4 linked regions of the Homo sapiens genome follow. The protein of the gene in region 3 interacts with the protein of the main gene of each other region in a pairwise test. Each region holds a gene or a part of one and is shown on either strand. Other genes may lie near its edges. The genes, in order: PANX1, ARL13B, WFDC2 and ANXA2.

Evidence for each region.
Region 1: the proteins of WFDC2 (region 3) and PANX1 interact in binary tests that used the Homo sapiens proteins (3 or more experiments, as listed by UniProt).
Region 2: the proteins of WFDC2 (region 3) and ARL13B interact in binary tests that used the Homo sapiens proteins (3 or more experiments, as listed by UniProt).
Region 4: the proteins of WFDC2 (region 3) and ANXA2 interact in binary tests that used the Homo sapiens proteins (3 or more experiments, as listed by UniProt).

What each region holds. Positions count from the first base shown.
Region 1 is NC_000011.10:94,152,679-94,159,927, reverse strand, and holds part of PANX1 (pannexin-1), read right to left. Parts: intron 6,438-7,249; coding exon 6,298-6,437; intron 1-6,297. UniProt on the Homo sapiens protein: Ion channel involved in a variety of physiological functions such as blood pressure regulation, apoptotic cell clearance and oogenesis.
Region 2 is NC_000003.12:93,983,054-93,990,302, reverse strand, and holds part of ARL13B (ADP-ribosylation factor-like protein 13B), read right to left. Parts: intron 2,358-7,249; exon of another isoform or gene 1,241-2,357; intron 1-1,240. UniProt on the Homo sapiens protein: Cilium-specific protein required to control the microtubule-based, ciliary axoneme structure. May act by maintaining the association between IFT subcomplexes A and B. Binds GTP but is not able to hydrolyze fit; the GTPase activity remains unclear.
Region 3 is NC_000020.11:45,464,968-45,472,754, forward strand, and holds the start of WFDC2 (WAP four-disulfide core domain protein 2 precursor), read left to right. Parts: upstream 1-4,785; 5' UTR 4,786-4,814; coding exon 4,815-4,893; intron 4,894-5,421; coding exon 5,422-5,565; intron 5,566-7,787.
Region 4 is NC_000015.10:60,387,930-60,395,178, forward strand, and holds part of ANXA2 (annexin A2), read right to left. Parts: exon of another isoform or gene 6,448-7,249; intron 5,512-6,447; exon of another isoform or gene 2,284-5,511; intron 1-2,283. UniProt on the Homo sapiens protein: Calcium-regulated membrane-binding protein whose affinity for calcium is greatly enhanced by anionic phospholipids. It binds two calcium ions with high affinity. May be involved in heat-stress response.

The sequences.
Region 1 (7,249 bases), on a different chromosome or scaffold from region 3:
CACAACATACCAGAATCTCTGGGACACATTCAAAGCAGTGTATAGAGGGAAATTTAGAGCACTAAATGCCCACAAGAGAAAGCAGGAAAGATCTAAAATTGACACGCTAACATCACAATTAAAAGAACTAGAGAAGCAAGAGCAAACACATTCAAAAGCAAGCAGAAGGCAAGAAATAACTAACATCAGGGCAGAACTGAAGGAAATAGAGACACAAAAAAACCCTTCAAACAACCAATAAATCCAGGAGCTGGTTTTCTGAAAAGATCAACAAAATTGATAGACCGCTAGCAAGACTAATAAAGAAAAGAGAGAAGAATCAAATAGACGCAATAAAAAATGATAAAGGGGATATCACCACTGATCCCACAGAAATACAAACTACCATCTGAGAATACTATAAACACCTCGAAGAAATGGATAAATTCCTCGACACATACACCCTCCCAAGACTAAAACCAGGAAGAAGTTGAATCTCTGAATAGACCAATAACAGGCTCTGAAATTGAGGCAAAAATTAATAGCTTACCAACCAAAAAAAGTCCAGGACCAGATGGATTCACAGCCGAATTCTACCAGAGGTACAAGGAGGAGCTGTTACCATTCCTTCTGAAACTATTCCAATCAATAGAAAAAGAGGGAATCCTCCCTAACTCATTTTATGAGGCCAGCATCATCCTGATACCAAAGCCTGGCAGAGACACAACAACAAAAAAAAAGAACTTTAGACCAATATCCCTGATGAACATCGACGCAAAAATCCTCAATAAAATACTGGCAAACCGAATCCAGCAGCACATCAAAAAGCTTATCCACCATGATCAAGTGGGCTTCAACCCTGGGATGCAAGGCTGGTTCAACATACGCAAATCAATAAATGTAATCCAGCATATAAACAGAACCAATGACAAAAACCGTATGATTATCTCAACAGATGCAGAAAAGGCCTTTGACAAAATTCAACAACCCTTCATGCTAGAAACTCTCAATAAATTACGTATTGATGGCACGTATCTCAAAATAATAAGAGCTATCTATGACAAACCCACAGCTGATATCATACTGAATGGGCAAAAACTGGAAGCATTCCCTTTGAAAACTGGCACAAGACAGGGATGCCCTCTCTCACCACTCCTATTCAACATAGTGTTGGAAGTTCTGGCCAGGGCAATCAGGCAGGAGAGGGAAATAAAGGGCATTCAATCAGGAAAAGAGGAAGTCAAATTGTCCCTGTTTGCAGATGACATGATTGTATATTTAGAAAACCCCATTGTCTCAGCCCAAAATCTCCTTAAGCTTATAAGCAACTTCAGCAAAGTCTCAGGATACAAAATCAATGTGCAAAAATCACAAGCATTCTTATACACCAATAACAGACAAACAGAGAGCCAAATCATGAGTGAACTCCCATTCACAATTGCTTCAAAGAGAATAAAATACCTAGGAATCCAACTTACAAGGGATGTGAAGGACCTCTTCAAGGAGAACTACAAACCACTGCTCAATGAAATTAAAGAGGACACAAACAAATGGAAGAACGTTCCATGCTCCTGGATAAGAAGAATCAATATCATGAAAATGGCCATACTGCCCAAGGTAATTTATAGATTCAATGCCATCCCCATCAAGCTACCAATGACTTTCTTCACAGAATTGGAAAAAACTACTTTAAAGTTCATATGGAACCAAAAAAGAGCCTGCATCGCCAAGTCAATCCTAAGCCAAAAGAACTAAGCTGGAGGCATCATGCTACCTGACTTCAAACTATACTACAAGGCTACTAGCAGTAACCAAAACAGCATGGTACTGCTACCAAAACAGAGATATAGATCAATGGAACAGAACAGAGCCCTCAGAAATAATGCCACATATCTACAACCATCTGATATTTGACAAACCTGACAAAAACAAGAAATGGGGAAAGGATTCCCTATTTAATAAATGGTACTGGGAAAACTGGCTAGCTATACATAGAAAGCTGAAGCTGGATCCCCCTTCCTTACACCTTATACAAAAATTAATTCAAGATGGATTAAAGACTTAAATCTTAGACCTAAAACCATAAAAACCCTAGAAGAAAACCTAGGCAATACCATTCAGGACATAGGCATGGGCAAGGACTTCATGTCTAAAACACCAAAAGCAATGGCAACAAAAGCCAAAATTGACAAATGGGATCTAAGTAAACTAAAGAGCTTCTTTCTGCACAGCAAAAGAAACTACCATCAGAGTGAACAGGCAACCTACAGAATGGGAGAAAATTTTCACAACCTACTCATCTGACAAAGGGCTAATATCCAGAATCTAAAATGAACTCAAACAAATTTACAAGAAAAAAACAAACAACCCCATCAAAAAGTGGGCGAAGGACATGAACAGACACTTCTCAAAAGAAGACATTTATGCAGCCAACAGACACATGAAAAAATGCTCATCATCAATGGCCATCAGAGAAATGCAAATCAAAACCACAATGAGATACCATCTCACACCAGTTAGAATGGCGATCATTAAAAAGTCAGGAAACAACAGGTGCGGGAGAGGAGGTGGAGGAATAGGAACACTTTTACACTGTTGGTGGGACTGTAAACTAGTTCAACCATTGTGGAAGTCAGTGTGGCGATTCCTCAGGGATCTAGAACTAGAAATACCATTTGACCCAGCCATCCCAGCCATCCCATTACTAGGTATATACCCAAAGGATTATAAATCATGCTGCTATAAAGACACATGTACATGTATGTTTATTGTGGCACTATTCACAATAGCAAAGACTTGGAACCAACCCAAATGTCCAACAATGATAGACTGGATTAAGAAAATGTGGCACATATACACCATGGAATACTATGCAGCCATAAAAAAGGATGAGTTCATGTCCTTTGTAGGGACATGGATGAAGCTGGAAACCATCATTCTCAGCAAAGTATCGCAAGGACAAAAAAACCAAACACCGCATGTTCTTGCTCATAGTTGGGAATTGAACAACGACAACACATGGACACAGGAAGGGGAACATCACACACTGGGGCTTGTTTTTGGGTGGGGGGAGTGGGGAGGGATAGCATTAGGAGGTATACCTAATGTTAAATGACGAGTTAATGGGTGCAGCACACCAACATGGCACAAGTATACATATGTAACAAACCTGCATGTTGTGCACATGTACCCTAAAACTTAAAGTATAATTAAAAAAAAGGAAAAAAAAAAACGAGAAAAATAATTTTTTTTAAAAAAAGATGAATGATAATCACACCCAGAAAATCCTCCAGAAAGGATTTATTTTTACTTCTGGCAGGCAAGTAGACCAGACACTCGTAATCCCCGATCTCTGTCATTCAACTGCTATTGCAATGATTTAAATCAGGACTCTTGTCCCTATGGGAGCTAGATTAATTCTGGATCGCCCCTTATTCTCAAGGAACAGCCTTTCAGAGTCCCAACCAAATGCCAAGGAGTGTTAATAAGGGTCCTTCCAACGTGGCAGGTCCTGACTTCAATTTCTGTCCCCAGCCTTGTGAATCTGGCAAGAGCTCTGCTGAGAAACTTAGATAAACCTCCATTCAAACAAGCAGTCTTCCACTGCCAGAAAGAGGGTTTCTTAATCTCTCATTAATACCAGGTAACTTAAGGTTTGGCTACCTATACTGTTTCCAGATTTCCCCTTCCTTGACTAGAAGAGCAATGGGCTAGAAGTCTGAAGATCTGAGCTCTGATGTGTTGGTCAGTAACTGGTCCTATAACCTTTAGGCTAGATCCCTCAAAGTTCCCTTACCCTTAAATGTAAAATACATCTGGATAAAAAATCTTTCAGTTTATTCTTGCTCTAAAATAATTACTAACACCCCTGCCAACTCTTAGACAATTCTCCTGCGGATCCATCAAAGGCAGCCCAGTGACTCATTAAAACTCTCTATTTTCATGAGAACACTATAACAAACGAACTTAAACTACAACAGTAAAAATTTGGATTTACAAAGCAAGCTGTTAAACTTTAGAACTGTGGTCATTCACACTGCAAGTCCTATTATTTGTTGCCTTGGCTACTAAACCATGCAAAGCTGACGAGAACCCACCTATGGCTGAAAATAAAGAGAAAAGCCCAACCTAAAAGGAGAAAAGAGTCACTATAGGGCACCACTATGCAAAATGGCAAGCAGTACAGTTGACGCTTGAACAACATGAATTTGAACTACATGGGCCCACTTTTATGGGGCTTTTCTTCTGCCTCTACCGCTCCTGATACAGCATGAACAACCTCTCCTCTTCCTCCTCCTCCTGAGCTACTCAACATAAAGACAACGAGGATGAAGACCTTTATGATGTTCCACTTCCACTTAATAAATATTAGGTTGGAGCAAAAGTAATTGCGCGTTTTGCCATTACTTTTATATATTTATTTTATTATTATTATTTTTTGGAGTCTCACTCTGTTGCCCATGCTGGAGTGCAGTGGTGTGATCTCTGCTCTCTTCAACCTCTACCTCCCGCATTCAAGTGATTCTCCTGCCTCAGCCTCCCGAGTAACTGAGACTACAGGCATGCACCAGCATGCCTGGCTTTTTTTTTTTTTTTTTGAGATGGAGTTCCACTCTTGTTCCCCAGGCTGGAGTGCAATGGCACGATGTCAGCTCACTGCAACTTCCACCTCCTGGGCTCAAGCGATTCTCCTGCCTTAGCCTCCCGAGTAGCTGGGATTACAGGCACCCGTACCACACCCAGCTAATTTTTGTATTTTTAGTGGAGATGGGGTTTCACCATGTTGGCCAGGCTGGTCTCGAACTCCTGACCTCAAGTGATCCGCTTGCCTCGGCCTCCCAAAGTGCTGGGATTACAGGCATGAGCCACCGCACCCAGCCACGCCTGGTTAATTTTTGTATTTTTAGTAGAGACGGGGTTTTACCATGTTGGCCAGGCTGGTCTCAAACTCCTGACTTCAGGTGATCCGCCCACCTCACCCACCTTGCAATTACTTTTAATGGCAAAACCCACAATTACGTTTGCACAAACTGAATAGTAAATATATTTTCTTTTCCTTATAATATTCTTAATAACATTTTCTGTTCTCTAGCTTATTGTAAGAATACAGTATATAATACATATAGCATATAAAATATGTGTTAATTGACTGTTTATGTTATTGGTAAGGCTTCCAGTCAACAGTAGGCTATCAGTAGTTAAGTTTTGGGGAAGTCAAATGTTACACACAAATTTTTGACTGTGCAGGGGACCAGTGCCCCGACCCCCACATTGTTCAAGGGTCAACTATAAACAAACATGCCTGAGTCATAGCTCCCTTAAATCATTCCTTTTACGAAGAAGGATGCTGATGGTGTGTCTGGAAGCAGGTCAAAGCAGAAGAGAGTCAAACTTTGGCTTTTGGGTTTTCGAAAGCTAAAATTCTATATTTTCTTCAGCAGAAAAGAATACCAGAAGATACACATTCTAATTGTTTTCACAATGGACAAAAGAAACAGTGGTTGAAATTAATGACAGGCTGAAACAAAGTCCTACTTTCAGAAGCACAGAGAAGACCTAATGCAGTCACTTCATAACTCAGAGAACATTCTTCTGCACAAACTTATCAACTGCTGCCTAAGTTCCTCACTGCATCCCCTGCCACCTGCATGCACAAACCACCACTTCCCTGACTACAGAATGTACCTCTTCTCTATGGGAAGTGGAGTGGAACCCAGACATTGGTGTCTCTTGTGTAGTATCTCCCCTTCCCTGCAGTATCTGGATCTATCAAAAAGCAAAGGGATCCATTCCAAAAACAGTGCTACAGCCAACACCCCCAGAGGGCCTCATCACTAGGCTTTTTGATGTTCCAGTAACGTATCAGCTAGAAGCAACTGAACTCTAGGTCAGTCCTTACTTTCTGCAAGAGACCCTGTGTGTGGTAGAAAAGGTGCTAGCTGAGAAGCTATGCATGAATCCTAGCTCTGCCACTGTCTAGCTATGCTCATTCAGACACTCAAAATGTACTAAGAACCTACTACGGGCCAGACATCCTGCTGGGCATTATGATATAAAGGTGTCAAGACACAAAAGGTGCCTGCTGTTATAGAGCTAAAACTCAAAGAACACTTCCCATTGCCCCATTGTGCTAAATGATGGTGCCTACACCAAGTCATCTCTGAGGTTCTTTTTGACTATAAGGTGCTACAGTTTTACAATCTGAGATACAGCACTGGTTGGCTACAATATCTGTGTGGTCTTTGGCATAGCCTCCCTGGGCTTTAGTTTCCTTATCTATAAAGCAAACAGGTTCTATTTGGAAATGTCTCCCTTTACCTTATGCAGCCACAGTGGGAGGTTTCCAGACTCGCTCTGCAGTGAGTTCTTCTGCTGAACAGCCGCCCAGCAATATGAATCCACAAAGGCAGCCTGACGCCAGGAGAAAGAACTTGGAGAGAAACAGCTTATCTGTGTACCTAAGAAGCAAAACAGATAGTTTCCAATGAAAACACAGCTTACCTGGACTCTTGTCCCCATCTCACATGTTTTTAGTTTTGTCTAAGTTAGGGAGCACCAGGACAGGAGGTGGAGACATTAGGACAGAACTAAAAACAAACACCCAAGTTCATATTAAAACAAAAGATCACAGAGTGGTTTTGGCCAACACTGGTCATGATAGCAGCTTGGCCTCAGTTGGGGAAAAATTCTTAAAAGAAGTAGAACTACCATACAAAGAAAAAGGAAGCAGGAAAAGAACCAGAGCCCAGAATTCAAGAGGCAAGCGTGGAGAGACCTGGTTTAGTTTGGAGTAAGGATTGAGAAAAAGGAAAGGTTATGTGGGAGGGTCAGTGAGGCACCTGAATGCGGAAAATTGGACTAAAAAAACAAGTTCTTTTAGAACAAAGAAGCAAAGAACTATTAGCCTGAGGAAGAGAAAGCTGAAGGGAACATTGGTAATAGAACACTGGATGGGAAATCAGTGGTTTCCTACCTCCTGTAACACTAAAGAAGAAACAGGCTGAAACTGCAGCCCAACTGGTTTACATTTGGAAGGGAAACGCTCACGACTGCAAACCTCCCAACAGCAGATGGGCGGTAGATGGGGAATGGGAAGACCTGGGTCCTGGTGGGGCTCTACCGTTCACTCGCTCTTCTGGGAAGGGACTCTGGGACTTGGTTTTCTCCTCTGCAAACTGAAGATTACATCTCTCTGCAGATGCTACCGTCACATCTGTAAAACCTACCATCTGGAAGACTCTTTGTGCTCCTGACACACACAGGCCATGGA
Region 2 (7,249 bases), on a different chromosome or scaffold from region 3:
GGCACGGTGGCTCATGCCTGTAATCTCAGCACTTTGGGATGCCAACGCAGGTGGATCACTTGAGGTCAGGAATTTGAGACCAGCCTGGCCCACATGGTGAAACTCCATCTCTACTAAAAATACAAAAAAAATTAGCCAGGCTTGGTGGCGCCCACCTGCAATCCCAGCTACTCAGAAGGCTGAGACAGGAGAATCACTTGAACCCAGGAGGTGGAGGTTGCCGTGAGCTGAGATCGTGCCATTGCACTCCAGCCTGGGCGACAGAGGGAGACTTCGTCTCAAACAAAACAAAACAAAACAAAACAAAAAAAAGAGATACTCAAACTGTATTATCAAATAATTAATGATGTAACCTTTCCAGAAGTTGAAAGTGAGCCGCTTACTCCTAATATTATAGTCATCCCTGGGTCTTTGATTACTAGAAAGGCTGAGATACAAAGGACTCTGTAGTATTATAAGATTTACAGTATGTTATACTAGTAATAAGTAACATAAGAGGTATTATGGGTACTCTGAAATGTAGCCACAAATTTGGTGTTAGAGACCTGAGTTCAAGTGCCAGATTTGCCATTTCTAAGCTATATGGCACATTACTTTTCAGAATTTCATGAATGAAATAGGATAATAACAATAGCTACTCTAAAGGGATATAATGAAAATTAAATAAGGTTTCAATGAGCTGGGATCATGCCACTGCAGTCTAGCCTGGGTTGACAGCATGAGGCTGTTTAAAAAAAAAAAAAAAAATTAACCATAGCATTTTTCTGCTTAAAATCCTTATAGAGAATCAAGTCTCAATTTGGCAGCCCCCACTTCTGCCACTCCCAGGAAGCCTGCCATGCCGAGGATTCCTTCCATGCCGAGTACTCCTTCAGCCCTTCACAACCATCCCCGGCTACTTTTTATACAGGCTCCTCTACCAGAACTTCTCTTTATCAGCTCTGTAGTGCCTGTATCAAATGTGTTGGGCACACAGTAGGCTTCTTTACTGAAAGAAACAACAAACATTTTCTGAACCCCATTTGCTGAGTAAATACTAAGTAAAATTAAAATACATAACTTTAGATTGAGAAAGTACTATAATGAAGCTAATTTATATAAATCTTCACATCAAAATAGTTCATATTAAAGAATGTAATTATATCCATATATATCAAATTGGCTGAAGTTTTCTGAAAAAGCTTACATGCTCATGGTTTCAAGGTACTAATTAACAGAAAGACTTTCAAAACTGAAATAGGGGTCTCAGCAGCTCGGGCAGCGGGAGGAGTGCCAGTAGCCAGGCAGCCCAGCTTCGCGAAGGCTCTCAGCTCCGTGGCCCACAGGTGCCCAGCAAGTGCCCCTCCTGCCGCCAAGATGCCCAAGAGGAAGGTCAGTTCAGCCGAAGGGGTGGCGAAGCAAGAGCCCAAGAGGAGATCTGCGCACTTGTCAGCTAAACCTGCTCCTGCAAAAGTGGAAATGAAGCCAAAGAGGCATCAGGAAAGGCTAAATCTTCAGATTAAAAAAAAAAAAAAAATGCAAACAAATGGGAAAAGGGGAGCATAGGGAAAACAGGCCAAAGTGGCTAACCAAGAAACTAAATAAGATTTACCTGCAGAAAACGAAGAAACTAAAACCGAGGAGACTCCAACCTTTGATGAAGCAGGAGAGAAAGAAGCCAAGTCTGATTAATATCATATACCATGTCTTATCAGTAGTCCCTGTCTCCCTTCTTGTACAATCCAGGGTATTTTTATCAACTGCTTTGTAAGTGCAAGTCTTTTAGTAGCTCTAGAAACATTTTAAGTAGCAGGAACTCCCACCTCATTCCATTGTTAAGTTTTTTCTGAGGTGAAATAATTCTCTGGTTGTTTATTTTTTGGTGAAACCAGAGAATAGTATGGGATATTGAATTACAGGAAGTTTTGACTGTCTTGGATGTCAGCTTAACATTCCACAGATGGGGGCTTAGTTTTTATATACTGTAATACAAAATATACTAAATGGCAATACAGAGTCAGAATCCTGCATTTAATGTCTTGAACATTTTAAATTACTTCTATTGCCATGTTTTTTTTTTTTTTTCACAGAATTGTTTCCTAAAGAAAACCACTCCTTGATCATGGCTCTCCCTGTCAGAACTGTGTACACTATAACATCTTTGGTCACAGAAGTCCTGATTTCCTAATAACTGTGTTAATGTGCTGTGAAAGATTGAAAATTTGGGTATATAGTGTACATGCTATTAAACTGTGAATTGGTAGAACGTGTACAGCTTATCAAACACTTGTAGATACTGGCTCTTGATAATCCTCTTAAGAAAAATTTGCCTCCAAATGTTAAGTTGGAATGTCACTATAATAACTATTTAAAAAAGAGGCCGGGTGCAGTGGTTCACACCTATAATCACAGCACTTTGGGTGGCCAAGGTGGGAGAATTACTTGAGCCCAGGAGATTGAGACATGCCTGGTCAACATGGTGAGACCTTGTCTCTACAAATTAAAAAAAAAAATTAGCCAGGCATCGTGGCATGCACCTCCCAGTTACTTGGGAGGCTGAAGTGGGAGGATCGGTTGAGCCCGGGCAGTCAAGGCTGCAGTGAGCCGTGATCACTCCTCTGCACTCCAGCCTAGGCAATAGAGAGAGACCGTTTCAGAAAAAGGAATTACAATAGAGGTTTTCTAGATTTTTGGTATGTATGTTAAGAATTGTGTACAATTTGAAATGTCTGTATACTTATTCTCAACACGACAAATAAAATCTCCATTACAAAAGAAAAAACTGAAATAATTCTTAGTAAAAACAAAAAAAAATCAAAGGTAGAGATTAAGGGATCCAAAGGTCTGTTTTACATCACTTTAGCTATCTGCCGAAACAAGTGAAGACTTCCATACTCCAGAAGCTAATAATTAATATTGTTCAAGTCAACACAATGTATATAATAGATCTCCTAAGTGAGAATATGAGAATATCTTATCTCAGAATTCCTTTTTATATAACGGATATACAAATTAATATATCAGAAATACTGGTCAGGCACAATGGCTTATGCCTGTAATCCCAGTACTTTGGGAGGCCAAGACAGGAGGACTGTTTGAGCCCAGGAGTTTGAGACCAACCTGGGCAATATGGTGAGATCCTGTCTCTATTTAAAAAAAAAAAAAATCAGAAATATAAGCATCATGGCATTAGGGAGGATTGAACTTAGAAAACATTTAAATTCTGAATCTTTCCTGAATGACATTATCACAATCATTTGAACACCTACAAGTCTAAACTTCCTCATCTTTTAACTAAGGAAGACAATACTTTCAATATGATAATTAGATAAAAGCTATTCCTTTTTTTTTAGAGACGGAGTCTCATTCTGTCACCCAGGCTGGAGTGTGCAGTGGCGAGATCTCCACTCACTGCAACCTCTGCCTCCTGGGTGCAAGCAATTCTCCTGCCTCAGCCTCCCAAGTAGCTGGGATTACAGGAGTCTGCCACCATGCCTGGCTAATTTTTTGTATTTTTAGTAGAGACAGGGTTTCACTATGTTGGCCAGGCTCATCTCGAACTCCTGACCTCAACTGATCCATCCACCACGGCCACCCAAAGTGCAGGGATTACAGGTGCGAGCCATCATGCCTGGCCCATAAAAGCTGTTTCTAACTTCAAAAATATTATGCAAGTCAAAGAAAACATTTCGCTAAAAACACTAAAATCAAAGTTTGACACATCGGAACTCTATTATCTACAGTATTTAAAACTACATGAAGCAAATTCTAAATTTTAACATAAACATAAATTCTAAAAGTAACAAATACATATACAAAAAAAGACTTTAGAACAAGGTTTTATGATACATATGTGAGAATTTTAAAAAATCACTATACGACAAATTGATAGAAAGAAAAAAATGTATCGAAAAAACAGTGTGATTTTATTGCAGTACACTATTTTCTGACATTTCAATTCAGATCTAGAACCCCATATTACAGCAAAATCATTATCTAAATTTACTGAGTATGAATAAATAGTGAGAAGGCCAAGCTTGGGTTTATAGCCTGCTTTTAAGCCCTGATCAAGTCAAATTCTTAGTGTCCATTTTTTCATCTCTAAAATATAAGGGGGTAAAATAAGAATGTCTCTAGGTCCTTTTCTATATTAAAATTCTAAAATTCTTACTATGCATAATCAAGAAGAACTAGGGGGATAAAAAGAGATGTAAAATATTCCAGTTCAGCATACAGCACAATAGATAATCCTTGCTAATCTGTACATACAGCTTAATTGGAAAATTAAGAACTCAGCAATTTCTATAAATGGTCTAGATTTACAGTTATATTTATTTAGGCCAAGAATGATGGTATTAGGGAGCTAAGTATTCCCTCAGTGAAAAAGTTCATAGCAAAGAGGACAAAACAGACCACTAGAAACATTGTGTACTGTATCTTATTTTAGACTTGGCCACAGCAAACAATTTACTAATAAATTTGAAGTAAAGCTTTGATAGGTTGTATTTGTGATGCTGAAAAAACACAGATGGACAAGAAATCAGTTCCAATTAAAGGTTAACTCTGTGGAAGAATGGTGGGAGATGAATAGGGGGCAGGAAGTTTCAAGGATTTGTTACCTACTTATTAAAATAAAATTGAAATATGATGACTAAAGATTAATATTTATAAAACCTGGCAGGCATATGGTACTTATTATATCTTTCTTTTTGGTTAAATAACAGTAAAAACATTTTTGTTAGTTATGTATGCATAATATATAAGAAGTTATATAACATGTATATTTTCATATAAACAAAGAATTTTGTTGCCAAAATTTGTATGCAAAATTTGTTGCATGAATTTCTTCAAGACCCAGGTAAAATTACACCCCTTCTAAAATCCTCTTTCCTGATTCTCATTAAAAATCTTAAAAATCATATTTCAACTCTTGCATATTCGATCATTATATTTTACATGCACTATTTCATCACCTAGATGCTATGTTATAAATAACAGGAGCTCAAAATCTGTAGATGAGAATGTGTAAGGGTTAGAATCTGCTATAAGGCCCAGAGATTTACTGAGCATCATAGCTTCACAGACCTTGTGTCCTGTACTCAGGATGAAGGCTGCTCCCTATAAGCTAAATAGATTGCAATAGATTAACAGTTTTTAATGTTAAAAATGAAAATATAAAACTACAAGAAAAAAGTATATGTGAATGTAATCTTGTAATGCTGATGAACTTTCTAAACATTACACTGAAACAGTAATATATTTGAATTTAAAATTTTTATTTAGTCTTATTGATTGATTGATTGATTGATTGATTGAGACAGGGTTTCACTTTGTCACCCAGGCTAGGCTGCAGTGGGGCAACCTGGGCTTACTGCAGCCTCCACCTCTTGGGCTCAAGCGATCCTCCTGCCTCAGCCCCCCAAGTAGCTCGGACTACAGGCACATGCCACTACTTCTGGCTAATTTTTTAAAACATTTTTGTACGGATGGGGTCTCACTATATTGCCCAGGCTGATCTCAAACTCCTAGGCTCAAGCGATCTTCCCAAGTGCTAGGATTACAGGTGTGAGCCACCACACCCAGCCTGAATTCAAACATTTTAAATGTTTATATTTAAAAAGCACAAAAAGTTGAAAATATAACAAATGGAAAGAAAATACTTGCAATATTATACAACTGATCCTTGAACAACACACGTTTGAACTGCACAGTTCTACTTACACACAAATTTGTTTTTAATGAAAGTTACACGTGTGCCTTCCTCTCCTGCCTCCTCTGCCTCCCCAGCCTCCATTTCCACCTCTTCTGCCTCTGAAACCTTCCTGAGACAGTAAGACCAACCCCTCTTCCTCTTTCTCCTCAGCCTACTCAATGGGAAGAAGATGAGGATGGAGACTTTTATGATGATCCACTTCCACTTAATAAATAGTCAATGTATTTTTTTCTTCTTTTTAATTTTTTTTTTTTTAGACAAGAGTCTTGCTCTGTCGCCCAGGCTGGAGTGCAGTGGCATGATCTCAGCTCACTGCAACCTCTGTCTCCCAGGTTCAAGTGATTCTCCTGCCTCAGCCTCCCAAGTAGCTGGTATTGCAGGTGCCCACCACCACACCCAGCTAATTTCTGTATTTTTAGTAGAGACAGGGTTTCGCCATGTTGGCCAGGCTGGTCTTGAACTTTTGACCTCAAGTGATCTGCCCACCTCAGCCTCCCAAAGTGCTGGGACTACAGGCGTGAGCCACCGTGCTCCGCCCCTTATGACTTTCTTAACATTTCCTTTCCTCTAACTTTAAGAATACAATAAATTATACATATAACATAAAAAATATGTGGTAACTGACTATTCATGTTATCAGTAAGGCTTCTAGTCAACAGGAGGCTATTAGTAATTAAGTTTTTTGGAAGTCAAAAGTTATATGTGGATTTCTGTCTGTGCTGGCAAGGCAGGGTTCAGTGCTCCTAAACCCTGCGTTGTTCAAGTGTCAATTGTACTACAGAGAAACAGTAGCTACGACAAACACTTAAAATTTCTTTTTAAAAATTCATTAAGAAAACACACCTGCCCCAATAGAAAAAACACAACAGTAATCAATGGACAACTGCTGAGAGAAACAAAAATGCGCAAGGAAAAAAAGTTAATCTTCCTAGTAATAAAAACAAAACAAAACAAAAAAAACCCCAGAAACTCAAAGCAGAAAGCAGGTTCCCCTATAATGTGAAGGAGATGAAAAACCGATGACTCTTGATTTTCTCAGTGAAAAAGGCACTCCAACGTACTGTTGGTAGGAGTAGAAACTGTGTTTTCTCTTTTTTAATCCTTTCTGAGGAGCAATTTGGTAACATATTTTTAAAAGATAAACTTAGGAACAATAAAATTTCAAGAGTTTATTTCCACATTCATTGATTCATGAATGGAGCCGTACCAAACTGAACCAAAATTCATGAATGGGGCCATACCAAACCCCAAATAAGTGGGGTTCAGTACTCCACTAAGGGGGATGAAGCGTTAAACTTTTATAAGATCTTGACTGCTGACCTAGACTGGTGCCTTAACACTTGATCTCTGACTCCTGCCTTGTCCTTATCACACAAATCTAATCCCTGATTCCAATGTCTGGAATAATATGCTCACTAGGAAAGGATCTAAGTGAGGAGAGGTGAACAAATACAATGGGTACTGGGGTACAGAATGTATTAAACAAATCTGCAAAGTAATCTCAAATATAGTATATTAATAACCATCATCATCTCTTTTACAAATTCACTCCTCACA
Region 3 (7,787 bases):
CCCCAATCTCCCAGCTTTTACTAGCCCATGGCTTCCCATTGCACATAAAAGATATGTTGCTTTTCATAGCCTTCAGGGTCCTTCATGATCTTGTTCTTGCCTAGCTCTTTGATTTCATCTCCCTTGATTTTAACTCTGCTCCAGCTATACTGGTTCTCTTACTCTTCTTGGCATTCATCAGGCTTCTTCCTGCCTTAGGATCTTTGGACTTGCTTTAACCTTTTTTGGTAATGCTCAGCCCCAGATGATGTTGTAGATAGATGTTACACATCATTCAAGTCTCAGCTGTTGATAAAGAAGACTCTTGGGGTGAGCTTGATCAAGGAATGTTTGATGAGACAATGAGCCCAGGGAAGGTTTGTGCAGCATGAAGTAAGTAATGTAGCTGGAAATAAAAGTTGGTATCAGTCAAAAAGGCAGGCTAAGGAGTTCAGCCTTTATCCTGAAGGCAGTGAAGATCCAGTAGAATTTACAGTCAAGGAATTAACTCGACAAGTGCACTGTTCTAGGAAGATTATTTGGTTTAGGGCTGGACCTGAGCCACTTCAAATAGACAAGCTCTGCTTTTCATGGGTTTTTGTGCAGAGACCATGTGTATTTTTTTTTTTTAATGAGGATTTGGTTTGAACATTATTGCATGTATGCCACAAGGATCTTAACTGTGAGTTAGAAGAGAATGAGAGCTGAGAGAAGTCCACTGGATTTGGAAATGAGGAACTTGGTGGTTACACTGGTATAGGGAGTAAGATCTCTTTGGTTACTAGCAACAGAAACCAACTCTGGCTGTTGTAAACAGAGAAGAAATTTATAAAAATGGGATGTAGTCGGCATCCATTCTCCTTTCCTAATAATATCTCTAAGTTAGCCAGAGTTGAATTTTACTGCTTGCACCCAATAGCACTAATTGATTCAGTTTAGCTCTCAGAACTGAAGGAAAGGCTAAAAGAACACAGCTTGGAAAGAATGGTAAAGTCAGAACTGAGTTCTTCCCAGGACACCTCTGAGTTAGCTCCATAAATTTTCAGGTCTTTTATCATTCATTGCTCAAGATTACAGTTCTAGGAACAGTATTTGATTGGCCACTCTGCCTGGGGGTAGGGCAGACACATTAATTGACAGTCTCCCTGGCCCCACCTGTCTTGGTCTGGAGGAAGTTATTTCCTCCAAAGCAAACTCAGGGTGATTTATCAGAAAAAGGACAAATGAATGCTAGGTGACAAAACAAAATAGTCAATATATCCAAAGAGAGAGGTTTCCATGGAATGAAAGGAAGTTTGACTGAGTCCAAAAGTCTAAAAGGAGAGGCCCATTGCATGGTTAAAGGCACCTTTTTTGTTCCTGGAAACTTCTTAAATCTTCACCGTTAACTTGTTTACAGTCATTTTAGAGTGGGCATGTCTACAGCTAATTGACATCATCTACCACTATAAACTTTTCCTTCTTTCCTTTCTGCTTCTTTTCTTCCTCCTCTTCCCTGATATATATTTTTTTACACTCATGAAGTCAAGTCCAAAACTTTGGATGCATCATCTACGTTAACCTCAGATAGATCTGTGTGAATGTGTATAATATTGAAATAACTGGGACAACACAAGTAATTTGGCAAGAGTCTTCCCTCTGATTTACTGGCTGTGTTTCCTCCAGCAAGTCACTTTGCTTAGCTGAATCTCAGTTTCTTAACGTGTAAAATGGGAGTAATAATACTTAATCCATAAGATTGCTAAATACATATAAGCTATCTTTCACCAAACACTTACTATGTGCCCACTCCAGAGGTCACAAATTTAAATGTCCTCCTGGGGTCAGGTGAGCACTGTGAATGGAACTAGTTGCAGAGAGGGAGGATGGTGGTGGTGGGGATTATGGGAAACTGGAGGGAATGCTTCCCTCATAGAAAAAGAGTAGCTGTACTTAGGTTCTGGTTTTCAAAGTATGGTCCCTAGCCCTGCAGCATTGGCATCACCTGGAAACCTGTTAGAAATGCAAATTCTCAGGTTCCAGACCTACTAATCAAAACTCTGGGGATGGGGATCCTGCAATCTGTATTTTAATAAGCCTTCCAAGTGATTCTGATGCATGCTTAGGCTGGGCACTGTGGCTCACACCTGTAATCCCAGCACTTTGAGAGGCCAAGGCGGGCAGATCACCTGAGGTCAGGAGTTCGAGACCAACCTGGCCAACATGGTGAAACCCCGTCCCTACTAAAAATACAAAAATTAGCCGGGTGTAGTGGCGCCTGTAATCGCAGCTACTTGGGAGACTGAGGCAGGAGAATCGCTTGAACCCAGGAGGCAGGGGAAGGGAAGGGAAGGGGAGGAGATGGGAGGGGAGGGGAGGGGAGGGAAGCCTGGGGGACAGAGCAAAACTCAGTCTCAAAAAAACAAAAACAACAAAAAAAATGATTCTGACGCATGCTCAATTTTGAGACCTGCTGCTCTAGCTGATGGTTGTTATATCTAAGATTGCAGGACTGTGTTGCCAGATCTTTTACTTTTTCCAAGAGAAGCTAGAGGTTTATTTTTATATGAAATTCGCTACTTTTAAATCTTGGCAACTAATTTAAAAATTTAAAACATACTGTGTAGTTAATAATGTATGTGCTCTAGCCAGATTTGCAACCTCTGATTTATGCTTTTTCCTTTAACCCTTATAATAATCTTATAAAACCCTTATAATAATCATCCAAGACTGTTAGGATGATACACAGTTTATGCAGGAAGAAGATGCAGGCCCAAAACATGAAGTGTTTCTCTAAGTCACATAGCCAGAAAGTGGCCATGGATGCATTGTCCCTGATTGGGCATGGATGCATTTGGTTCTAAAGCCTCTGCCCTTTTAAATGATGTAAAGAGAATATCTATAACTATACCTAGCACGGAACTTGGCACCACAAAAGCTAAACATCTGATGCCATTGACTGATGAAAATTCCTTCCCCATCCTTCTGCCTGGCCCTGCCACTCTCCCTCAGTCTGTATTCCTGTAAGAGAGAGCCAATCAATAGGGTGCTCATAAGGGCCTGGGAGGAGCAAGGCTGGGCAGTTTCCTGGCCCAGGGAGCTGAATAGGGCCCGGAAGAAAGCTGTTGGCAGCAGTGCCTGGGGCTGAATGTACAGTAGCCAGCTGGGTCCACGGGCTAAAAACTGGCTGCTCACCCCAGTGTTCTCTTTGTGCCCTAGACTGGGTTTCACTAGCCTGTTATGGGCTGTGTTCCCACCTGGCTCCTGCCCTCATTGTTGACTGAGCTCAGAGTAAATAGCCCTGGCCCCTCCCAATAACGTCCCCAGTCCCCAAGTTGAGCATGAGAAGCTGGGGGAGGTGTTCTCAGCATCCATTTTGGGGACAGTGGCCAGATGTACTCACATCACCAAACCCTACTCACCTGTCACTATCATCCCAGTGTTCACTGCCCCAGGGCCCCTCTAGCCTCCAGCAGCAAAGACCTCCTGGGGCTTCTAGAACCTCAGATCATTGGAGCAGGAAGCACTTCTTGTCTAACTCCCTGGGTAACTCTGTTTTGGCACTTAACCCCCTGGATTCTAAAGCTTCATTTATACTTATTGGTCTCCTTCGTCACAGGAGACACTTATCTGTGGAGCACTCATGGCCATGTATCCAGTACCTATCATGGGTCAGGCCTGGAGTCCCTGTGTCAATCAGTGTGGATCTACTCTCAATGCTCCCAGTGAGTACATGGTTGTTCCGTGGCAGGAACGTTGCATTTGTGTTCTCACTGAAGTCCCATATAGGTGTCATTTTCACTGATGATGTGGCAGCTCAGATCCAGGAAAGGATTCATTCCAGGGCCCTCAGGTGGGAAGTGGTGGAGGTGGGAGTCAGACCCCAGACCCTGTCACCCCTTCAAGACCAGTGCTGGAGGGCCCCTTTTGACGACTTTCTCTTCACCAAGCGTCTTGCCCTGCATATGTCACACAGTAGGCACCCAGTGAATATTTACGACGGAATGGAAAAAACAAGGGCCTGGAGGGAGAGACCTGGGTTCAAAACCTTATTTGTACAGCTTTGCAGGGGACCTTGTGGTGGAGGTGCGGTCCTAAATCCCTAAACACTCAGTTCCTTTGTCATATACAGCTGATAACAGTAACTCCCCGGTCAGAGGACCGGCGACAATTCCTTGAGACAAGGAGCACAGAGCCTGGCACAGTCAGCCCTGATCAGGGGCCGGTAGGACAAAGAGAGGGAGACAGAAACACACACCCAAACGGCTTGAGACTGCTAGGTGCTTCACCTTCCTGGGCCTGTTTCTGATGAGGAGGGTTTGTTTATTAATAATAAGTGCTATTTCTGTAGCCCCTACTATGTGCTCTGTATCACTACCCTAGCCCTCCATCAAGAGGGATCTGCCCTCTCATCTGGCTGACCCCAAATCGAACCCTTTAACCCGCATGCTCTACTGCCTCCCTGCGGGCCCTGCCTTATCCTCCTCAACCGCCCACTGGGGACACTCTGGAGAAACCTCGGAGTCTTGGAATAGAAACCCAGGAGCCCTGAGCCTTGGCCCTCAGGCCCCAGGAGGGAGGTCAGGAGGGAGGCGTGGACAAGGGTCCGGCCGTAGCTGGTCCCGTCCTGGAAGCTGCTTAAGTTCCTGGTTCCCACCGGGGCCAAGAGTGATACCTGATCCTGGGGGATTGTGAAATGACCTCATGTGGCAGCCCGCCCGCGGTGCCCGCAAAGCCCTCCACCCTCCCCTTCCCCGCTCGGCTCCACCCCTACCCCACGCCCCCTCCCGCGCGCGCGGTTAAATCCCCGCACCTGAGCATCGGCTCACACCTGCACCCCGCCCGGGCATAGCACCATGCCTGCTTGTCGCCTAGGCCCGCTAGCCGCCGCCCTCCTCCTCAGCCTGCTGCTGTTCGGCTTCACCCTAGTCTCAGGTGAGTGGGGCGGGGAGAGGCCCGGCGCCTAGAGGGGCCGAGCCACGAGCGCCAGGATGGAGCCAGGCGGAGGCGTAGCCTCTGGAGGCTGGGGAAGTGGGAATTCCGGGGGCGGAAGTGGCGGGGACCCTTGGAGCCTAGGGTGTGGGGTCCAATGTGCTGGAGGTGGAGAGACCACTGATGGCTGCAATTTGGGAGGATTCTGTGCTGAACGCGGACACTCCGTGGCTGCAGTGGGCTGGGGGTGGGGGCTGCTCTGCCTCGACCTCGGAAGCTCCGAGACGCTCAGCTGTGCGGCGTCCCCTAGGGCTGAGATCTGAGGGCCCCGACGCCAAGGGTTAGGGAGCTCTCGTACTCCCAGGGGTCAGGGACTCCTGGTCTGGAAGAAGGAGTCTCTGGGGGCTGTAAGGGGACTCCTAGGGCCAGAGACTGAGAATTCCTTGGGGTTAAGGTTTGGAGCAGGAGGTGGGCATCCTCTGGGGCTGGCGCTACGCCCCACCCTCGACTGTCCCGGGCCTCCCCTCCCAGGCACAGGAGCAGAGAAGACTGGCGTGTGCCCCGAGCTCCAGGCTGACCAGAACTGCACGCAAGAGTGCGTCTCGGACAGCGAATGCGCCGACAACCTCAAGTGCTGCAGCGCGGGCTGTGCCACCTTCTGCTCTCTGCCCAATGGTAACCCCACGGCGGCCGAGCGGGAACGGGGCGGGGCCGCGCTGGGCTGGGAGGAGGTGGGAGGGCCCGGGTTCCGGGAACAGGGGCGCCCCCGGACCCGGGGACCCCCGGGAAAGTCAAGGCGGTTGAAACCAGATCCGTCAGTCCTCTCCCTCGCACGGCCCAGGGGTAGACAAAGGCGTCGTTGAAACGCAGCCAAGGGGGGGTCCCCACCCCTAGCTGGGATTCGAGTCTCTGGTGCATGACGGGCTTCCGGGCACGCACAGCCGGGACATTGTTCCCCGCGGCCTGGGGACCCGGGGCCGCAGTTTCCTTCTCGAACCGGCCGAAGCCTGCCCTGCGGGAAAGCCCGGAGCCTGGGGCGCTCACCTCTCCTCTTGGAGTCCCTCCCTGGGGGCCTCCCCCAGCCCTGGGGAAAGACTGGGAGAGCCTGGCCTGGCAAGATTTTCCCCAATTCCTCTGTCCAGGCGGAAAGGAACTTTACAGATTTAGGAAAATGCCCCGCTCATCTTAAAGATGTGTAAGGGAGCATCGGTGAGAAAAAAATGTTCTTGCCCAAGGTCACACCGCCATCCCATGGCTGCTGGAGTCATAGTGAGGGTTCAGCTTTTGCCTTTCAGGCCAACTGGCTGAGTGATTCGAAGAAAGTGAGGAATCCTCCCTGGACACTGTATCGCCCTTCGTCGTCTTTCAGTCAATCTCTTCCACTCTAAGGATTGAGTGAGCGCGAGCTGGGGACTCTCTCAAAGGTGCTTGCTGGAGCTGCAGTCTCCACCAGGCTATCAGAACAGGGGGTGGCTTAAACAGCATGGAATCTCAGCTTTCCGTTCTCCAGAGGAAAATGCTGAGGATTAGAGGCAGGGATAGGACCTGGAGAGAACCAAGGTACTGTAATGATGTTCTTTATCCAGAATACAGCCCCTGTGACTTTTCCTCTCTGTTATTTCCTTGAAGATGCCAGCACAGGCTGGGAAGGTTTGTAATACGGTGACCCAAGACACCGATCAGCAGGGAGGTGGTAAGTGGAGGGGGACTGGCAGCCCACCAAGGGCAGCTTCAAGGTCATGAGTCCCCTCCTCTGGGCCAGGGAGAGGAGGACCAGAAGGAGAGAGGAAGATTTGGAGAGAAAGCAGGCAGCAGCCAGATGAGAGAGGTGGAGGAGCAAAGGAGGGAGTCTTTGCTGTTTGATGGATGAAGAATTTGTTCCCTTATCTCAGATGGACAGACTGAGGCAGGAAGAGGGACAAGGTCAGATGGCCTCCTGAGCCAGGGAGGCAGCCTGGAGGTTTGAATCCTAGTTCTGCCATTTTCTAGTTATGTGATCCTGAGCATGTTGTTTACCTCTCTGAGCCTCTGCTCTAAGATGGGAATAATTCCAAACTCTATAGGATTGGCATGAGGACTAAATGAAATAATGCATCTAAAGTGTCTATTAGTGAGAAGATACTCCATACACAGTGGCTTGTTTTGATCATAAATGGTTCCCTATTTATTTCCAGGGCAGCCCAATATTACAGGTTCCTACTCCTTTCAAGAGAATGAATTTCTTTGTATTAGGAAGTCAAGACTGTTGGCAACTTAACAACATTTTTTTTTGTATTTATGCTTTAAGTTCTGGGGTACACGTGCAGAACGTGCAGGTTTGTTACATAGGTATACATGTGCCATGGTGGTTTGCTTCACCCATCAACCCGTCATCTACATTAGGTGTTTCTCCTAATGCTATGCCTCCCCTAATTCCCAACCCCCCGACAGGCCCTGGTGTGTGATGTTCCCCTCCCTGTGTCCATGTGTTCTCATTGTTCAACTCCTACTTATGAGTGAGAACATGCGGTATTTGGTTTTCTGTTCTTGTGTTAGTTTGCTGAGAATGATGGTTTCCAGCTTCATCCATGTCTCTGCAAAGGACATGAACTCATCATTTGTTATGGCTGCATAGTATTCCATGGTGTAGACGTGCCACATTTCCTTTATCCAGTCCATCACTGATGGGCATTTGGGTTGGTTCCAAGTCTTTGCTATTGTGAACAGTGCTGCAATAAACCTATGTGTGCATGTGTCTTGGGCATTTGCGTTGGTTCCAAGTCTTTGCTATTGTGAACAGTGCTGCAATAAACCTATGTGTGCATGTGTCTTTATTGTAGAATGATTTATAATCCTTTGGGTATATACCCAGTAATGGGATTGCTGGGTCAAATGGTATTTCTTGTTCTAGATCCTTG
Region 4 (7,249 bases), on a different chromosome or scaffold from region 3:
CTGTAATCCCAGCACTGTGGGAGGCCGAGGCAGGCAGATCACGAGGTCAGGAGATAGAGACCAGCCTGGCCAACATGGTGAAACCCCATCTCTACTAAAAATACAAAAATTAGCTGGGCGTGGGGGCGGGCGCCTGTAATCCCAACTACTCGGGAGGCTGAGACAGGAGAATAGCTTGAAACCAGAAGGCAGAGGTAGCAGTGAGCCAAGATCACACCACTGCACTCCAGCCTGGGCAACAAGAGCAAAACTCCGTCTCAAAAAAAAAAAAAGACAATTTAGAATAGTCTTGCTCTGTAGCAGAACCGTCCAATACAGTAGCCACCAGCCTCATGTGGCTACAAAGCATCTGAAATGTGGTCAGTTCAAACTGAGATGTGCTATAAGTGTAAAGGACATTCTGAATTTTGAAGACATAGTATGAAAAAATTATATAAAATTTCTCATTTATAATTTCTTTCTTGGTAAAGGCAGGGTCTTGCTATGTTGCCCAGGCTGGTCTCGAACTCCTAGCCTCAAGTGATCCAAGCACTGAGATTACGGGCATAAACCACTGTGTCCAGCCCAATAATTTATATATTGATCATATATTACAATTACAACTATGATATGTTGAATATATCTTATTTCCATTTAATTTCCTTTTTCCTTTTTCCATTTTTTTTCCTTTTTTTTTTAATGTTTCAGTAGAGACAAGGTCCCACTGTGTTGCCCAGGCTGGTCTTGAATTCCTGGGCTCAAGCAATCCCTCCGCCTTAGCCTACCAAAGCACTGAGATTACAGGGGTTAGCCACCACACCTAGACCTTTTTTTTTTTTTTTTTTGTCTGAGACAGGGTTTCTCTCTCTGTTACCCAGGCTGGAGTGCAGTGGTGCAATCATAGCTCACTGCAGCCTTGATCTCCAGGACTCAAGAGATCCTCCTGCCTCAGCCTCCCAAGTAGCTGGGACTACAGGCGTGTGCCACTACACCTGGCTTTTTTTTTTCCAGTAGAGATAATGTCGCGTTACCTTGCCCAGGCTGACAGTCTTCTTGACAGAGCAAGAAATCTCTAACTTCAACATGGACCAAGAAACATTCTAGAGGGTCTCATCAGTATCCCTCAGCCCGAGAATTACCGAAGCAGAGGTGAAACTCCTAGGATGGACATCAAACCACCCAAGCCCTGGCCTTAACTATCACCCCTGGACTCAGTCAGAACTGGACCAGGTCTGCAGCAGGGGATAAACTGTTGTCATCTGCTGTGCAGAATTCTAGTCTCTACCATAAACAGGCAAGAAATAAAAAATGCCAAACGTAAAACAAAAGCAAAACCAGGGAACTAGCAAGTCAGAGTTGCAAACAGAGTTGTTTCCACTTAGAGAGTATAGATTAAATTCCACTTGTTTATGAAATCAGACACCTCACATTGGTTCCGATGTTTAGAAAATCTCAACTAGAGGCACGGTAACTTTTCATTGTGTTGTTCTTTCAAGTTGTCTTTCCAGCTCTGAGCTTTGTAGACTGCTGCCTACCCGTGTCCCACATGGGACTCCCCAGTACTGTGCAGATCAAAGACAATCTGATAGGCTTCTTTACACTCTCCATTCATGTTAATTCTTCTCCCACAGCCACAACACCTTGAGGAGACTGTTAAAAGCCCCACAAATCTTCCTTTCGGTTTCACCATTCATAACTGTGCTGCTCTTTCATCAAATCAGTCCTGCATGCCACCACCAACTAAATCTCCCCATTTAATCTTGTCAAAATCATTTGACATCATTCAAAATCAGTCCTCCAGCAGAGCCCAGCCTTCAAAGATGAGCATCAGAATCCTGTAAACAGTAAACAGTTCCCTCTGTTTACTCCTCAGCTACAGTTGACTAGGGCCAAAATGTGACTTGCCTCTCCGCACTCACCACTACTTCAGTATCTGCTCCAACAGGGTCACCACGACCCCTACTCTACAGAACTCTATCTTGCCTTTCACTGCCAGGGCACTTTTTGATACCACTTCATTCATCCATTCGGCAGAATGTTTTAAGTGCCCTACACGTGCCAAGTATTCAAATGGTGAATGCATAGGTACAATTCAAAGCAGTAGAAAGTATATGGTTGACCTCATCTTCCCTACATAGTCCCAGTCCCCCTACAGATTTCAGATTATCTTTACATAATGCAGGTGCTAAATCAACTTGAAAACAATGAGTTGCTATTTTGCATAACATTTATACTATGTATAACCATTTTGCAGAAAAAAAAAACAAAACACAAACATCACAATAACCACAAAGTCACACTTACCACAAAGCAGTATCTATGAAATTTGACATTATCCCATGCAGGTGCCTTTTGTATCCATATAAATATTTCCTACTTCATGTGAGTTTAATGGCAAACATTTTCACCCTAGAAATAAAATATGGCCACTTTCCTCCCATGCCGATAGCATTCCGGAAAACATGGTGAACATTCCTAAAACCCACTGGGCTTTCTGTAAGAAGTGTGGCAAGCACCAACCCCACAAAACGGCACAATACCAGGACTCCCTGTATGCCCAGGGAAAGCGGCGTTATGACAAGAAGCAGAGTGACTATGGTGGGTAGACTAAGGCAATTTTCTGGAAAACGGGTAAAATTACAAAGGAGGTTGTGCTGAGGCTTGAGTGTGCTGACCCCATCTGCAGATCTAAGAAAATGCTGGCTGTTAAGACATGCAAACATTTTCAACTGGGAGGAGATAACAAAAGAAAGGGCCAAGTGATCCAGTTCTAAGCATCATCTTTTGTTTTATTATGAGGACAATAAAATCTTGAGGTTATGTCCAAAAAACAAAACAAAATAAAAAGAAATAAAATACAGTGCTTGCTTCTTCACTCCATCAAATCCCCTAGCAATGCAAAGTCATTTTGCATATGATCTATTATTCGCTGGAAGGAACAGTTGGCTTTGCGATTCACTGTTTGTTAAAACATTAGTTTAATATAGCATATTTGACTAATGAGAATGTGTCAGTGTGCTGCTATCCTTGAAAGCAGGAAAAGGAAGTCTTGGCAGTGCTACTGTAGGTTACAAACACTGGTAATACGCAAGGAATTAATCAACGAACCCATACCAAGCATACGCTGAGCCTGCACTATATTAAAGGATACAAAAGACACTTATAAAACTGTGAAATGCAGACTTCCACCCTGCAGGACCTTTGAGCTCTCTTCCCTTCGTGCCTCTGTGACACACTGAGAGTCTAGTCCAGGGTCACCCAGTGAATTAAGTAGCTGAGGCAGGGCCAAAACCCAGATCCCCAGACTCCTGGGCCAATGCCCTTTCAACCTCACCACAATGGTTCTTTATTCCAAGTGATTAAGACACAGAGAGAAAGATCACAGCCATCAGAGCGGGATTAGTTAAGGGCTTAACAGGGAGGTGCTGTCTGCCTAGGCTGAGAAGGGTGAATCACCATGGGAGGTTCCAGCCAAGAAGCAAGGGGGAAGGCCTGGGGAGAGGGGAAGAGGAATAATGCCCCAGGGTGGCAGAAGAACAAGACTACAGGCTGGAAAATGAGCCACGTCCAGTGGGGTGCCCTGTGGGGAACCTAAAATATAAGTCTCTGAATGGTGCAAAGTTAAGCTTGCCTATGGAAATACTGGGGAACCTATGAGCCAAAATGATTGGGACTCAGTACTCATATTTATCTATTCACCAAAACATTTGCTCTGGAGGCAGAATTTTCTTACTGAAAACAACTACTCTGACTTCAGTGTACTTACTGTTTTGAATGAAAATAAAAAATAAAGCCTACATGCTGTATGAGACAATTTCACCTCTACTCACTCCTCATCACCGTATAAAACTCATAAATCCATTAAAAACAGAACCACTACTCCTTTTCTGGCAGACTTCTCTAAAGAACATGAAAATGGCAGTTTGCACCACTCTTTCCAACACTTCAACCTCACCCAGCTTGCCGACTGGTTTCAACTCTCCAACAAGAAAAAAAAAAAAAAATCAGCAAATTCAATCTGTTGATGAGTACATCTACATACACATCAGTGCCGTGCCTTCCATTCCCAGGGAGGGCAGGGTCACTAGACAACATCATTAAAATGACCCTTTATCAGAGAACGTTTTTCTGTTTAAGGAAATAAACTAGAGGTACAGGGAGACTCACTGATAAGAGCCATACCCACCTCAAACTGGTTTAAAATCATTCACTACTTGGGTAGGAAAACAGGTCACTTGGCCCCACCCTAATGAAAAGAACAGTTTCTTCTGCCTTGAAAAGGCTGATAAATGAGACTGTGAATGCCTGGCTAAAAAAGCTCACAGTGCAAGGCTGATCATTAATGAAATCAGTGCAGTTATTGAGAAACAAGTCATTTACATTTAACATAAGGACTATATTATTTAGGTTGGTGCAAAAATAACTGCCATTACTTTTAATGGCAAAAACCACAATTAACTTTTGTACCAACCTAATAATTTAAGGGTTTGTCCTTATTAAAAAAAAAAAAACTCTATAGATTTTATTGTATTCTATTGCTTCACTACGAAAGTGCAGTTACAAACAAAAAAAGGACAAGTGAAGCAGTTTTAACTTTACTCCCAAAAAGAAGAGTAAAAGTTTACAAAAAGGTTAAAACAAACAAACAAAAGAAAACTTAAAAGTCAACACTTCAAATAGTAAAAACACATTCTACTGAACTAAATTAAGAACCAGTTCCAAAAAGCCCAAATGTTAATCTGAACAAACAAAAACATACTGCAACAGGGCTGGTCTGCACAGGCAAATCTGAGTCTAATCCAGAAGTTTTGTGGACACACCCACTTCACAGTTTAAACGTGGAGTGTTGATGCGTTACCGCAAAACAGATTCTTAGCAACCATGGTGAATCAATCAGGGACTGGTGATTCAAATGAAGATTTTAAAGCAAAAATGGGTAGAGGTGGGAGTGTGGAGAGTTGGGTTCTCCATCAAAGCTCTTACTGTACACAGTCCTGGACACACAGTCTACAGGCCACACTGGAATTTTAAACTAAAAAAAAAAAAAAAAAAAAATGTACTGGGTGAGGAGAGGGGTTCCCACTGTACTCCATCCTCCACCCACCTACTGCATCTTTATTTATCAGAACCTTTTTGAAAGCAGATATTCTTCTCCTTGGTTTTATGGTCTTGATTAATGACTGAGTCACAGGGCCAACTCATTCCCCAGAATTCCTGGAATTCGGCCCAGTGACCTCGATCAAACTGAGCAGGAGGGACACACAGCACTTGCTCCAGCTTGTCTCTTCTGTGGCCTGATCTGAATCAATATTTGTTTGCTCCCTACTGACTTGTTGCAGCTTCATGCTCTCACAGCCTCTCTCTGCTGGTATCCTGATCTGGGGTTGGAGTGGGTGGAAAGAGACCGGCAGGAAGAATGATGTCACTTGGCATGAAGCACTTTCAGGGTTGGGAAATCCAGGCCTTCAAGTCTGCAACTCAATTTCAGTGTTTTATGGCCCACATATTGTATTTTCAACAGGGCCTGGCCGCCTACAGAAAAAAGTCTAATGTCAGCATTCAAGACCTTCCACACTGTGGACTTACCTACCTTTCCTTAAATATCTTCTATACACACACACATGCATACACGCATCCTGCACAGAAGAGTTAACTGGACTGTTAACTCTTCTCCAAACACGCTCAGCACTTTCTAAGTTCCCTCCACCAGGAACCTCAATCTTAATTAGCTGACATCTGAATGAGTCTTTAGGATACAGGAAATCATAAATGCCGCCTTTCTCACACACCCCTCCTTGCCCTGTGCTTCTGCAGCTTTTTGTGTGTCTGTGCAACATTAGAGTTACATGTGTAAAGTCTGTCTTCCGTATTATCCGCCCACAGGGTTTCCAACTTAACTCCCTCCTGTTTCCTCATAGGTCTGAGCACAGTGCCTGGCACACGATAGGCATTCAATTTCATCTTGGGATGGTTTACACACACTGGGTCTTTCTATATTAGAAAGTCTTTTTTTCTTCTTTTCCAACACACTCTCCTTCCTCAATTTTCTCTCTCCCTCAGACTGGACATTTCGAATGCAGTTCCAGTTCCGTGCATTCAGAGTTGGAGGCTTAAATCACCAACTTCTGCAAATCTTAGCAAAGCCCAGCAGGTCGCTTCAGGGCAGCCTCTTATCAACATATAGCCATGCCCCCCACCTCTGTGCTGTCAGGGATACTTGGACCCTAGCTCTGTCCATAGGACCACATGGGAACGTAACCTACAACTCCTAGCAAGAAGGCAGCAAAGAGGCAGGATGTACGAGTGGCCTTAGGACTCTGATTTCCTCTGAGCTGTGAGTGTATAGCCTGGGTGTGGCAGGGAGACAAAGGACATGGACAAAGGGCTCCATAACACAGTCACTCCCTAGAATAAGAAATTTCTACACCACACCTGGGGTAAAACTCAGGCCACTTGGGTGCTACCGACCTGTCCAGTTGAGCTCAGCTGGATTAAAAGCTTCAGGGTGGGCCAGGCATAGTGGCTCACGCCTGTAATCCCAGCAGTTTGGGAAGCCGAGACAGGCGGATCACTTGAGCTCAACAGTTCCAGACCAGCCTGGCCAACATGATGAAACCCTGTCTCTACTAAAAATACAAAGATTAGCCCGGCATGGTGGTAGGCACCTGTAATCCCAGCTACTCGGGAGGGTGAGGCTGGAGAATCACTTGAACCTGGGAGGCGGAGGCTACAGTGAGGAGAGATCGTGCGACTACACTCCAGGCTGGGTGACAGAGCCAGGCTCCATCTCAAAAGAAAAAAAAAAGAAAAAAAAAAACAGCTTCAGGGTGTACCCTAGAAGGGAGATTTGGAAGTCATCTGGTAGAACCACCCAGAAGGACAAATATGGGCATCTCCTGACCCCTACTGCTGACCTGTCCCTGGAGAAAGTAGATGAGGACTGCCTCTGGCAACAGCAGAAGAAAAAAGATACCAGGCAGTGAATGGGTGGAAAGAATTTTTTTGAAGGACTGGAATTTCCTCTGGTGTGGCCTACAACTAGAATAGGGTGTGGCACCAGGGCAAGTGAAGAGGATTCTCATGTGAAAAAAAAGAGGAACATTCCATTTCTATTTAATTCTCACAATTGAATCTGGAAGGCAGCTTAAGACACCATAATTTTAAGCAAAACTTCCCCGAGGTAGGTAAAATGTGAAGTTTAGGTCTGTGGAACAGCTGGATTAAAGGGGAAATGAACTCCCACCAAGTTTAGAAACTAGTATTAATTTGG